3 linked regions of the Homo sapiens genome follow. The protein of the gene in region 1 interacts with the protein of each later gene in a biochemical or structural test. Each region holds a gene or a part of one and is shown on either strand. Other genes may lie near its edges. The genes, in order: CRYAB, CRYGD and CRYBA1.

Region 1 (3,751 bases):
CAAGAGGCAGGATGAGGGAGGATGAGGCTGGCACAGGGGCGAAATGGGAAATCTGGAGAGGAGGGATTGGGAAGAGCAAGAGGGGAGTCAGGAGGAGTAGGGAACGGGAGGGAGGCCACACTGTAGCTAGGAGGAGAAGGCAGCTCGGAAGAGGGGAAAGAGAACGGAAAGGAAAGGGAGGAGGAGGAGGAGAAGGAGGAGGAGGGGGAGGAGGAGGAGGCACCAAACGGCCTGGGTGGATAGAAGGGGGACAAGGAGGCACACCCAGGCCGGCAAAGAGCAGGTATCAGCACTGCAAGCACCAAGTGTGTCTTGAGGTCAGCAGGAATGGGAAAGATCTCTGCTTGGAGGGGATGAGGGGTAGTCTGGGGTGGGGGGTGGCTGGTCCCAGGAGATCAGTTAAGCCCAGAGTGGGGTGGAGGCCAGCAACGTTGGGAGGTCAGCCCAGAATTTCAGGGGGTGGGGGTGGGGGGCAAGGGGGTGGTGTCTGTGCCATACCTTCTCCGAAGCGCTGCTCACCCAGGCGGCTCGGGTTGGCAAATTCGTACTCGGCGGTGGCCGGGTGGGCATGTGGCACTGAGCGGCCCGACATGGCTGCAGATGCAGCAGAAGCCCTGGTCCGAGGTGCAGCCCCAACAGGCGCAGCGCGACCCCTCCAGCTGCCCGGAGAGCCAGGGCTCGATAGGAGGTGGGGGCGGGGTCGACACCACCCAAAATAGTGCCGAGCCTCTTGGGGGGGGAGGGGCTGGGAGTGGGGGCCCTGAGTGAGAGCAACGAGGGTGTGACCAGCGCCGCCCGGACCCCTAGTCCCCTCCCCCGCACACTCTTCAGCTGTCGCAGGGGGCCTGAGAGGACAGCTGAGGGTCCTGGCTGGGAACGAGCTGGGGAGGGGGAGCTGGTGGTGCCTGGGGCATGAAGAGGCCTCGCTGAGACCCTCACAAACGGTTTGCACGTTTCCACACCTCATTTTCTCCTCTTCGGTGGCAGGCACTGTGCACCCAATTCCTAAAGCACTCCTGGATTTAATGTTCTGAGAGCCACATAGAACGAAAGATGCAAGAAATCTGTTTGCTCTTTTTTCAGGGGGTGGGGTCTTTCTGCCCAGATGTGGGATCCTCTCCTAAACCCAGGTCAACCCAGGGCACGAGGCAGATGGCTGGTGCTGACATGTTGACCATCACTGCTCTCTTCCAAGGACTCACAAAGAGTTAATGTCCCTGGGGCTCAGCCTAGGAAGATTCCAGTCCCTGCCCAGGCCCAAGATAGTTGCTGGCCTGATTCCCCTGGCATTCAGGACTGGAAAGGAGGAGGAGGGGCACACTACGCCGGCTCCCATCCTCCCCCCACCCCGCGTGCCTGCTTGGGATTCCTGACTCTGTACCAGCTTCAGAGAACAGGGGTGGGGGTGGGTGCCATTGGGTGTGGACAGAAAGCTAGTGAAACAAGACCATGACAAGTCACTGGCCGGCTCAGACGTGTTTGTGTCTCTCTTTTCTTAGCTCAGTGAGTACTGGGTATGTGTCACATTGCCAAATCCCGGATCACAAGTCTCCATGAACTGCTGGTGAGCTAGGATAATAAAACCCCTGACATCACCATTCCAGAAGCTTCACAAGACTGCATATATAAGGGGCTGGCTGTAGCTGCAGCTGAAGGAGCTGACCAGCCAGCTGACCCCTCACACTCACCTAGCCACCATGGACATCGCCATCCACCACCCCTGGATCCGCCGCCCCTTCTTTCCTTTCCACTCCCCCAGCCGCCTCTTTGACCAGTTCTTCGGAGAGCACCTGTTGGAGTCTGATCTTTTCCCGACGTCTACTTCCCTGAGTCCCTTCTACCTTCGGCCACCCTCCTTCCTGCGGGCACCCAGCTGGTTTGACACTGGACTCTCAGAGGTGAGTCTCCCCACAGCTAGGACGGGAGAGTCCTTACTGGAACCTCCTGGAAACTTCTCCATCCATTTTCCTTTCCTACCCTGCCTAAACCATTTTAGGCACATGTGTGTCCAAATGTGAAGAAAAATGAGGAGGTTGCTAGTGCCTTCCTCCCCCATCACCTGTTTCTATTTGATAGTCCTCTGTATCCCATTTATTACATTTTTTCATGCACTGTCAAGTTTATCCTCCGTCCCCTAACTTCTCTACAGGATACCCCTTTCTGGTTTGGTTCATGACAATCTGCAGGGAAAGAGCTGCCTTCAAACTCCTTTGCTTATCTCTTCCAACACCTTGGACTCTTGACCGATTTTACCATCTCAGGTTTCAGAGCCAGGAGAGAGCCCTGCCTCATCCTGAGCTGTTCATCCCCATGGGTATTTTCTGCCTTTCTATTCCCTCTTCTATGATTTTCTGGGTTTCTCAGGGCTACGACAGGGCGCTGGCCTGGGTCCAATCAAGCCCTACGAGGAAACAATATAGGGACGCCCATTTGTCCTAAGAGGGTGGAAGAACAGGGTGAACAAATAAGGTTGACAGAGCTGTCACAGATAACACTCTGGTTTAAAAATATTCAAGTGTGAGTAAACAGGAGCTGAGTGGGCAAGGGCTTTGGAAGGACAAGCAGGACCAGCAGAACATTCCAGATTGGGTGGGTGGAAAACTGGCAAAGAGACCTGAGCCAGAAGAAGAGGCCTTTGTCTCACAGACAAACCACAAAGCCAGGCATTGGAGTCAGAGAGGCAGCAGATGCCAGGCTTGCACCCATCCTTGCGACTGGTCCCCTGGGTGATCTGTCTTCTTCTCTGTCCCTGTAAATAAAGTTTGGGTCTGATCACCATGAGCCTTAGGTATCACTGTGGTGGCTCCCTGAAGCAGACAGCTATGTTTATTTAAAAAGGAGATTTTTTAAGCAGAGAAGAGAAGGATGAATTACCCGGACAGAAAGCAGCTCTGCAGAATAAGACAGCACCTGTGTAATCAGTATTTTTGCCCTCTTTCTCCCATCCCATTCCCTTACCTTGCTATTTCTAGATGCGCCTGGAGAAGGACAGGTTCTCTGTCAACCTGGATGTGAAGCACTTCTCCCCAGAGGAACTCAAAGTTAAGGTGTTGGGAGATGTGATTGAGGTGCATGGAAAACATGAAGAGCGCCAGGTATGTAGCTTGTTTTTTTGTTTTCTGCTCATTCATTCAGTGCATACTGTAATAGTCCAGGTAGTGCTATCAGCTTTGGAGGCTGGCTACATTCCAGTCCCAAGCCATAACAGTCGGGATCAGGGGTTACAAATCAATGTCTAGAAGACTAAGTTAGGATAGACATATTGCTGTTGTTACTATTATGGCCAGAGATGTGGCCTTTGATTTGATCGCCTTAGATGGGATGATGGGATGCTGATGCCCCATTTAAGCCAGTGGTTCTGAATCTGGGCCACATTAGAATCACCAGGGGAACTTTCAAAAAACCTAATGCTCGGGCATACTCCAGACCAATTAGCATATGTGCTGCCGAAGCGAGCACTACTCCAGACCAATTAAATCAGCATTTTTAAGGGTGGGACCCAGGCATCAGCAATTTTTAAGGTAATTCTAATCTACAGTCAAGGTTGAGAACCACTGATTAGGTATAGGGCTGTCAGACACCTAGTTGCTTTGCATAATTACATTAACTACAGGTACCCTAAAAGCACTTGAGTTGTGACTTCTCTTTTAGCTGTGCAAGAATCCGTGTCTCTTCTTTAGCCCATCTTAATGCTGAACTACTTGGTTTGTCTAAATTTCAGAGCTGTGCTCAGTCTTTAATCCCCTACAGC
Region 2 (3,751 bases), on another chromosome or scaffold:
CGCACCACCATGCCTGACTAATTTTTTCACTTTTTTGTAGAGAAGGGGTCTCACTATGTTGCCAGGGCTGGTCTCGAACTCCTGGGCTCAAGTGACCCTCCCACCTTGGCCTCCGAAAGTGCTGGGATTACAGGTGTGAGCCACCACACCCAGCCACAAGTTTATTTTCCATTTCAATAGCCTCCAATTATTAGCCACTAGAGACTCTTAACTTCCTTGAGTTAGGATCCTTACCAATTTTTGAGCACCTACCATACGCCTGCTATATGTAGCAATGGGGATGAAGAAAACAATCAAAACAAAACAAAAGAAAAAGGTATTTCCCTACCACCGTAGAGCTCTATATAGAAAGAATACAAAAAAAAAAAAGCAGCCAGAAAATAAGAATTAAAATAATTTGTATTGCACATAGTTGGTGTTTAATTCATAAATACCACTTACAAAGATTTATGACTCAAAGACAAGACAAAGTACTTCCATGGGTTGACACAGGGCTGTAAGCAATTCTTTGAACATGAAAGAAGCTGGACACATAGGTCATATTCCACTCCAGTACTCTTCCCAGTCCATCAAACTGCTCTCTTCCAGGCCAATAAGTACTTTCTGAAGTCTTCCTCGAGTCCAACTTCTAGATTTTTATTCCTTCCTCTCCCTGCATCATTCCAGCCATAGCTCCCCTTTGTGTTCATGCAATTAATTTCGTCTGAGTCAAAGGCCTTGTGTACTCTCGCTCGTTCAGAGGGCAAAGGTGTATTCTAGATCCTACCAGAAATAAGTTTCTTAGGAATTTGGTTTTATTTTATAACAAGCTAAGAGATCATGTTTTTGTGTTTCAAACATATTACTTTTTCTAATTTCCTCAAACTTAGATATTTCCCTTTTTAGTTCTTTCTGAGATTAAGCATCTTAGAACTATTCTCTCTTTTGAATCACGGCACCACCTTTAGCTAAGAGAAAAACATCTAATTCTCAGCTACTTCCAGGCATAATTGCAACAAAATCAGACCCAATATTGAAGATTCACGTTTGCTGTGTGTTTTACCATAATAAAAGTTCGAAATTCTGTGAACTCTCTTAATAAAATGTTCCAATTTCTTACACCCTTTCATGATGACGTTCTCTTAAAGGACTAACTTGAAATTTTCAACATTCAGTTAAGCCCATTTCCTTCCTATTAACAATCAGTATTCAATATTGTGGCACGTAAGTAATACTGTAGTTCTGACAGATTAATTTATATTTGCCTTATTAAGAGTCGTTGCTTTTTTTGCTCCCCGACTTAAATTTTTTTTGTTTTTCCCCAATCTATACGAATAAAAGCGTGAACTATATGTGAAATAGCTGAAGCTCCACTTCCATTATAAATAGACAATGTCCCAAATTGCCGTTTTACAAACATTCTCAATAGCATCAGCCAGTGATAGCAATCCGAATACTCCAGAGAGAATGCGACCAAAACCCACAACAAGCCCCGTGGTCTAGCACAGCAAAGAGAAAAAAAGAGAACACGAAAATGCCCTTGCTCCCCTCCGGGGGCCCCTTTTGTGCGGTTCTTGCCAACGCAGCAGCCCTCCTGCTATATAGCCCGCCGCGCCGCAGCCCCACCCGCTCAGCGCCGCCGCCCCACCAGCTCAGCACCGCCGTGCGCCCAGCCAGCCATGGGGAAGGTGAGCCCAGCCTGCGCCCCGGGACCCCGGAGCTTCCTCCATCGCGGGGGCCAGAGACTGGGGCAGGAGCAGGCCTGTGAGACCTCGCCTTGTCCCGCCTTGCCTTGCAGATCACCCTCTACGAGGACCGGGGCTTCCAGGGCCGCCACTATGAATGCAGCAGCGACCACCCCAACCTGCAGCCCTACTTGAGCCGCTGCAACTCGGCGCGCGTGGACAGCGGCTGCTGGATGCTCTATGAGCAGCCCAACTACTCGGGCCTCCAGTACTTCCTGCGCCGCGGCGACTATGCCGACCACCAGCAGTGGATGGGCCTCAGCGACTCGGTCCGCTCCTGCCGCCTCATCCCCCACGTGAGTACATCCTCAAGTCAGGACCCAGGCCCTCAGGACACTCACTGGATGGTTTCAAGCAAAAGTTAAACATTAGAAGTAGTGATCAGTCACAATAACTGAGAGTGGACAAAAGATGAACTATAGTGGATTAAGTCAATAGAGTTTGCTCCCCACATAAGCAAAGTATTACCCAGACACCAGTTAATCACAATTAATCCACAAATATGTATTGAGTAGGAATGTGTCTCCTGCCCTAGGGGTTGTATAAGACTTAAGTCCTATTCTGGAATCATTTAGAATGGAGTTGTAGAAAAACCACTAATACCCAATAGAAGAATAAATGCTAGAGCGTACAGCAGTTACTGAGCAAACAGGGTAATTTCTTTTGAGACTTTTTCCCGTTTTTGCTCCTCTCTTGCATATTTTGGGTTTTCCCAACCTATATAAGTAAGACTTTCCTTCAAAGGAGAGCAACACACATATTTTACACATGTGTCCCTTTTATCCCATATGTGTGTTAGAACACTAAAGTTTATGCAAAATTCGTCCTTGGACTTACTGATGTTTCTTCCTCCATTTTTCTTCATTGCATTCACAAGTTATTGACTTAGAATTAATTGTTCTTTAATATATGAAGATATTTAACATTTTATATTTTAATATATTTTAAATATTTATATTTTAATATATTTAAAACACTTATATTTTGAATAGAAGGCTTATATATTTAACATATTTTATTTATGTCATTGATTTAAATGATGCATTATCATTTAATTCAATATATTAAATGATATATTTAATATATTTTAAATACTTATATTTAAAATACATATTTTTATATTTTAAATATATTTACATTAAATATATTTAATGAATATAATGTATTTAATAATATATTTATTTAATAAATATGTATTTAATATATTTATATAACTACATAAATTATATTATATTTTAAATATATTTAACATATTTTAAATATATTTTAATATATTTTTAATATATTTCATTTACATTATATGTGTGTATATATATATTTTTGTTGTTGTTGTTTTGTTTTTGTTTTTTGAAACAGAGTCTCACTCTGACGCCCAGGCTGGAGTGCAGTGGTGCAATCTCGGCTCACTGCAACCTCCGCCTCCTGGATTCAAATGATTCTCGTCTCTCAGTCTCCTGAGTAGCTGGAGTTACAGGAGCACGCCACCACACCCAGCTAATTTTTGTATTTTTATTTTTATTTTATTTTATTTTATTATTTATTATTATTATTTTTTTTGACGAAGTCTTGCTCTGTTCCCCACGCTGGAGTGCAGTGGCATGATCTCGGCACACTGCAACCTCTGCTTCCTGGGCCCTAGCAATTTTCTTCCCAAGTAGCTGGGATTACAGGCACCCGCCACCACACCTGGCTAATTTTTGTATTTTTAGTATAGACAAGGTTTCGCCATATTCGTCAGGCTGGTCTTGAACTCCTGACCTCAAGTGATCCACCTGCCTCGGCTTCCCAGGGTGCTGGGACTACAGGCATGAGCCACTGCCCCACCCCTTATATTTCTGTATTTTAAATATATTTTATTTATATTTTAGTAAAGTTATTTTAAAATAAAATATAATTTGTAAAATAAATATAATTTTAATTTATACTTATAAAATATAATTTGAATATAATTATTAAAATAAAATATGATTAACTTTAAATAAAATATAATTTTATACATTTTATAATATATTTTAAATATAGTATAT
Region 3 (3,751 bases), on another chromosome or scaffold:
TTCTCCTGCCTCAGCCTCCCAAGTAGCTGGGACTACAGGCGCCGCCCGCCACCACGCCCGGCTAATTTTTTGTATTTTTAGTAGAGATGGGGTTTCACCGTGTTAGCCAGGATGGTTTCGATCTCCTGACCTTGTGATCCGCCCGCCTCAGCCTCCTAAAGTGCTGGGATTACAGGCGTGAGCCACCGTGCCCAGCGAAATTTTCAATAGTATCTTTCATTGGAAAGAGAGTAGGGTAAGGAGTCATAAGCCTACAATGTATCAGGCAGATATTCTATTTTTGAGGTTGAGAGAGTCTGAGTGACTTGCTTCAAATCTCCCAGCCAGGAAACTGGGATTTGAACCCACATCTGCCTGGCTCAAAGCCTTCCACATCCATTGCAGCCTCTTGCTTCTCACAATATCTGTGATGCTTGCAGAACACATCTTCCCCTTCAGGGCCCCTGCGGAGGCCCACGATTCCCCTACCTTACCTTCATCAAGTGTCCTGAAGTTTCTGGGAGAAGTCATTTTACACTTTAAGGTACTATACGCATAGTAACTTGGGCCTGTGAGATTTCCAAAGACCTAAAACAATTCAGTAAAACGTCAAAATTGGCCGGGCACAGTGGCTCACGCCTGTAATCTCAGCACTTTGGGAGGCCGAGGCAGGCAGATCACTTGAGGTCAGGAGTTCAAGACCAGCCTGGCCAACATGGTGAAACCCTATCTCTACTAAAAATACAAAAAAATTAGCCGGGCATGGTGGCAGGTGTCTGTAATCCCAGCTACTCAGGAGACTGAGGCAGGAGAATCACCTGAACCTGGGGGGCAGAGGTTGCAGTGAGGCAAGATCGCACCACTGCACTCCAGCCTAAGCAACAGAGCGACACTCTGTCTCAAAAAGAAAAAAAAAATTGGTTTTGAAGGTGTGGGTGGCAGGAATTCTCGCCCCTGGCCTGGGTGAGCTAGAGGGGAGAAGCAAGGACATCTAGGTCCCTATCACCGCTTGCCTAGACAACTTCACAGGAAGGCCCCCGGGAATCTGAGATGGAGCAGGTGAACCCTTTACATCTAGATGGTGAGTCCAAAGGAGGTATTCAGAAGGTTGCCTTCTTCCCCTTCCTACTGCTGCCCAACGATGACCCGCAGGCTGAAAGAGCCCTTTCCTCCTGGAACTGATGTGGGACCTGGCCTGTTTGGGAGCAGAATGGTGAAAGGAATTAACATGGAAGACAAAGGGACAGGCAGCCAAGATCATTTGAGGAGGAAAAATTGCTTCATTTCTAGGCTCCTTCCCCTTTTGAAACAGATAAGTTACATCCATTATATGCTCAGTGTTTATATTCAGAACTGCAGTTCTAGCCAGGGGGGTCTCTTTCCTCTCCTGGAATTTTTTGGGCCATTTATGCATTACTCCTGAGGGAGGGCCAGTGCAGGGCAGTGACTTTGGTGTTGGTTAGAACTGGATTCGAGTCTTGGCTCTGCCATTATAAATACTGTGACCTTAGGCAAGTCACCTGATTGTTCTCTTAGTTTCTTAATCTGGAAAATGGAGGTGAAAATAGCACTGTTGTGGTGGCTGTGAAAAAGTATTTCTTTCTTTTGTTGTGGAAAAGTATTTAATTCAAACTTTTTAAGTAAAGCATTTAGCACATGTCTAATATATAGGAATTATTCAATAAATGGTTTAATTCTTTTTTAAAAAACCCAAAAGTTATAGCTCCAAAATTTTTAAAGAAAATTGCAAAATTAAAAGGAATATTTAATAAAATAGCTACAGAGAGACACATGTCTGCTAGTCAACTATAATTGAAGTCAACCCTTACATAGTTATATATAAATACAGCATAATAAAGATTCCCAAGAATACAATGAACCATTTTTTCTCATATTGAGTTCAGAATTACAATAATTCTTTCACATTTTTAAACAACAAGAAATGCACATCTGTATGGAAGTGAGGTGCATTTTGATGTGTTTGATATGACATGGGGTCTCCCAGGGTCTTAAGGTCTTAGGAAGATCCCAAGGTGGTGTGAGGAACCTGGAGAAGGACAAGAGACAAGTACTCATGGCAGAGACTTCTGTCCTCACCCCCTAGCTGCTCTGAGAGATTAAGAAAGCCAAGGCCTGCAGCAGCCAGCCATGCCCACAACAGAGGGGCCTCTCTGGATTTCTGTATCCCTGGTTTAAACAAAGGCCCCAGCAAGCTGAGCCACCAAAGCTCTGGGGATCATGAGGAACAAAGGCAGAGGGAGAGCAGAGTGCTGACAGGGCCAGAGGCCAGAGGCCGCAGGGCTATAAAGAGGAGGGCCACAGAGCAAGTGGTACCAGATGGAGACCCAGGCTGAGCAGCAGGAGCTGGGTGAGTAAGGCCCTCAGGGTGCCCTTGCCCTTCCTCTCCTTGCCCTGCAGAGACATGCCCAGGAGAGGGCCCAGTTCTCCTGCCTAGTGTGTAGAGCCTTCTAGGGTGGCTGGAGAAGAGTGGGGAACTCTGGCGGAAGACAGCCTTCTCTTGTCACCCCAAGAGGAGTCACTTATATAGCAATAACCACTGCCCTAGCAACTAAGGCTGGGGGATGGGCATGGGCCCCCAAGAAACGAGCAGGGAGAAGGTATGGGAGCAGGACCTGGGAAATGTTGCTTATTCAGAGATTCAGAATGGAAAAATATATTACAGAGTTGACATGCATCATTCCTGGGCCCAATACCAGCCAGGAGGAGGGCCATGAATATCTGTCCTAAGAAACCTAATACACACCTGCCTGTCTTCCTTCTTCCCTTCCTCCCCCACTTTTCCTTCCTCTTTCTTGCTCTGTCCTTCCTTTTTTAAAACTCGTCCTACCATCTTCACTGTCTACCTAACCTCTTTGAGCCTCAGTATCCTCATCTGTAAAATGGGGATAATGATAATTCTTAATTCATAGTCTGTATGTGAAGATTAAATGCATGAATGCATGTAAAGCATTTAAAACAGGGCCGGACATGTAGATAGCCATTTTTGAGTGTAAGTATTATAACTCTTTTCTTCTTCACTTTCCTTCAATAAGTCTTTTTCAATGTCCCCCTGATCCCTCATCTCCACATGTGCTCAGCACGATGCTATACCAATCCCCTAGAAGACCGAGGCCTTGCCATTGAGGTGCTCACCAGGACATCCAACCAGAACACAGATTGGTACTGTGATGAGTGCTATAAATCAAGAAAGCAAGCAAGTGGCTGTGGGCTGGAGAAGGCAGGAAAGCCTCTGAGAAGGCAAGGTCAAGGCTGGGTAGGATCTAGGAGATAGAAAAGCAGAAAGGAATGGCCAGGCGCCGTGGCTCATGCCTGTAATCGCAGCACTTTGGGAGGCCAAGGCGGGCAGATCACCTGAGGTCGGGAGTTCAAGACCAGCCTGACCAACAGGGAGAAACCCCGTCTCTACTAAAAATACAAAATTAGCCGGGCGTGGTGGCACATGCCTGTAATCCCAGCTACTAGGGAGGCTGAGACAGGAGAATCGCTTGAACCTGGGAGGCGGAGGTTGCGGTGAGCCGAGATTGCGCCATTGCACTCCAGCCTGGGCAACAAGAGTGAAACTCTATCTCAAAAAAAAAAAAAGAAAAAGAAAAGCAGAAAGAGGCCAGATAAGGATGAGACCGTGAAGGGTTACGAGGGAGTCTGGGGCTTGGGATCCTGGCATGGCTGGCTGTTTGGCCAGTCACATGAGGGGTCTGGCCTAGGTGGTTGCCAAAGAGTTTATATTGCAGACAGAGGTAATGCTGTCACC

Evidence for each region.
Region 2: the proteins of CRYAB (region 1) and CRYGD form a complex in vitro, tested with the Homo sapiens proteins (3 studies listed by BioGRID).
Region 3: the proteins of CRYAB (region 1) and CRYBA1 form a complex in vitro, tested with the Homo sapiens proteins (2 studies listed by BioGRID and IntAct, with this or other methods).

What each region holds. Positions count from the first base shown.
Region 1 is NC_000011.10:111,909,671-111,913,421, reverse strand, and holds the start of CRYAB (alpha-crystallin B chain), read left to right. Parts: upstream 1-1,651; 5' UTR 1,652-1,697; coding exon 1,698-1,898; intron 1,899-2,668; exon of another isoform or gene 2,669-2,972; coding exon 2,973-3,095; intron 3,096-3,751. Other genes in the region: HSPB2 (heat shock protein beta-2), read right to left, coding at 499-592. UniProt on the Homo sapiens protein: May contribute to the transparency and refractive index of the lens. Has chaperone-like activity, preventing aggregation of various proteins under a wide range of stress conditions.
Region 2 is NC_000002.12:208,122,381-208,126,131, reverse strand, and holds the start of CRYGD (gamma-crystallin D), read left to right. Parts: upstream 1-1,607; 5' UTR 1,608-1,658; coding exon 1,659-1,667; intron 1,668-1,777; coding exon 1,778-2,020; intron 2,021-3,751. UniProt on the Homo sapiens protein: Crystallins are the dominant structural components of the vertebrate eye lens.
Region 3 is NC_000017.11:29,244,548-29,248,298, forward strand, and holds the start of CRYBA1 (beta-crystallin A3), read left to right. Parts: upstream 1-2,311; 5' UTR 2,312-2,316; coding exon 2,317-2,347; intron 2,348-3,751. UniProt on the Homo sapiens protein: Crystallins are the dominant structural components of the vertebrate eye lens.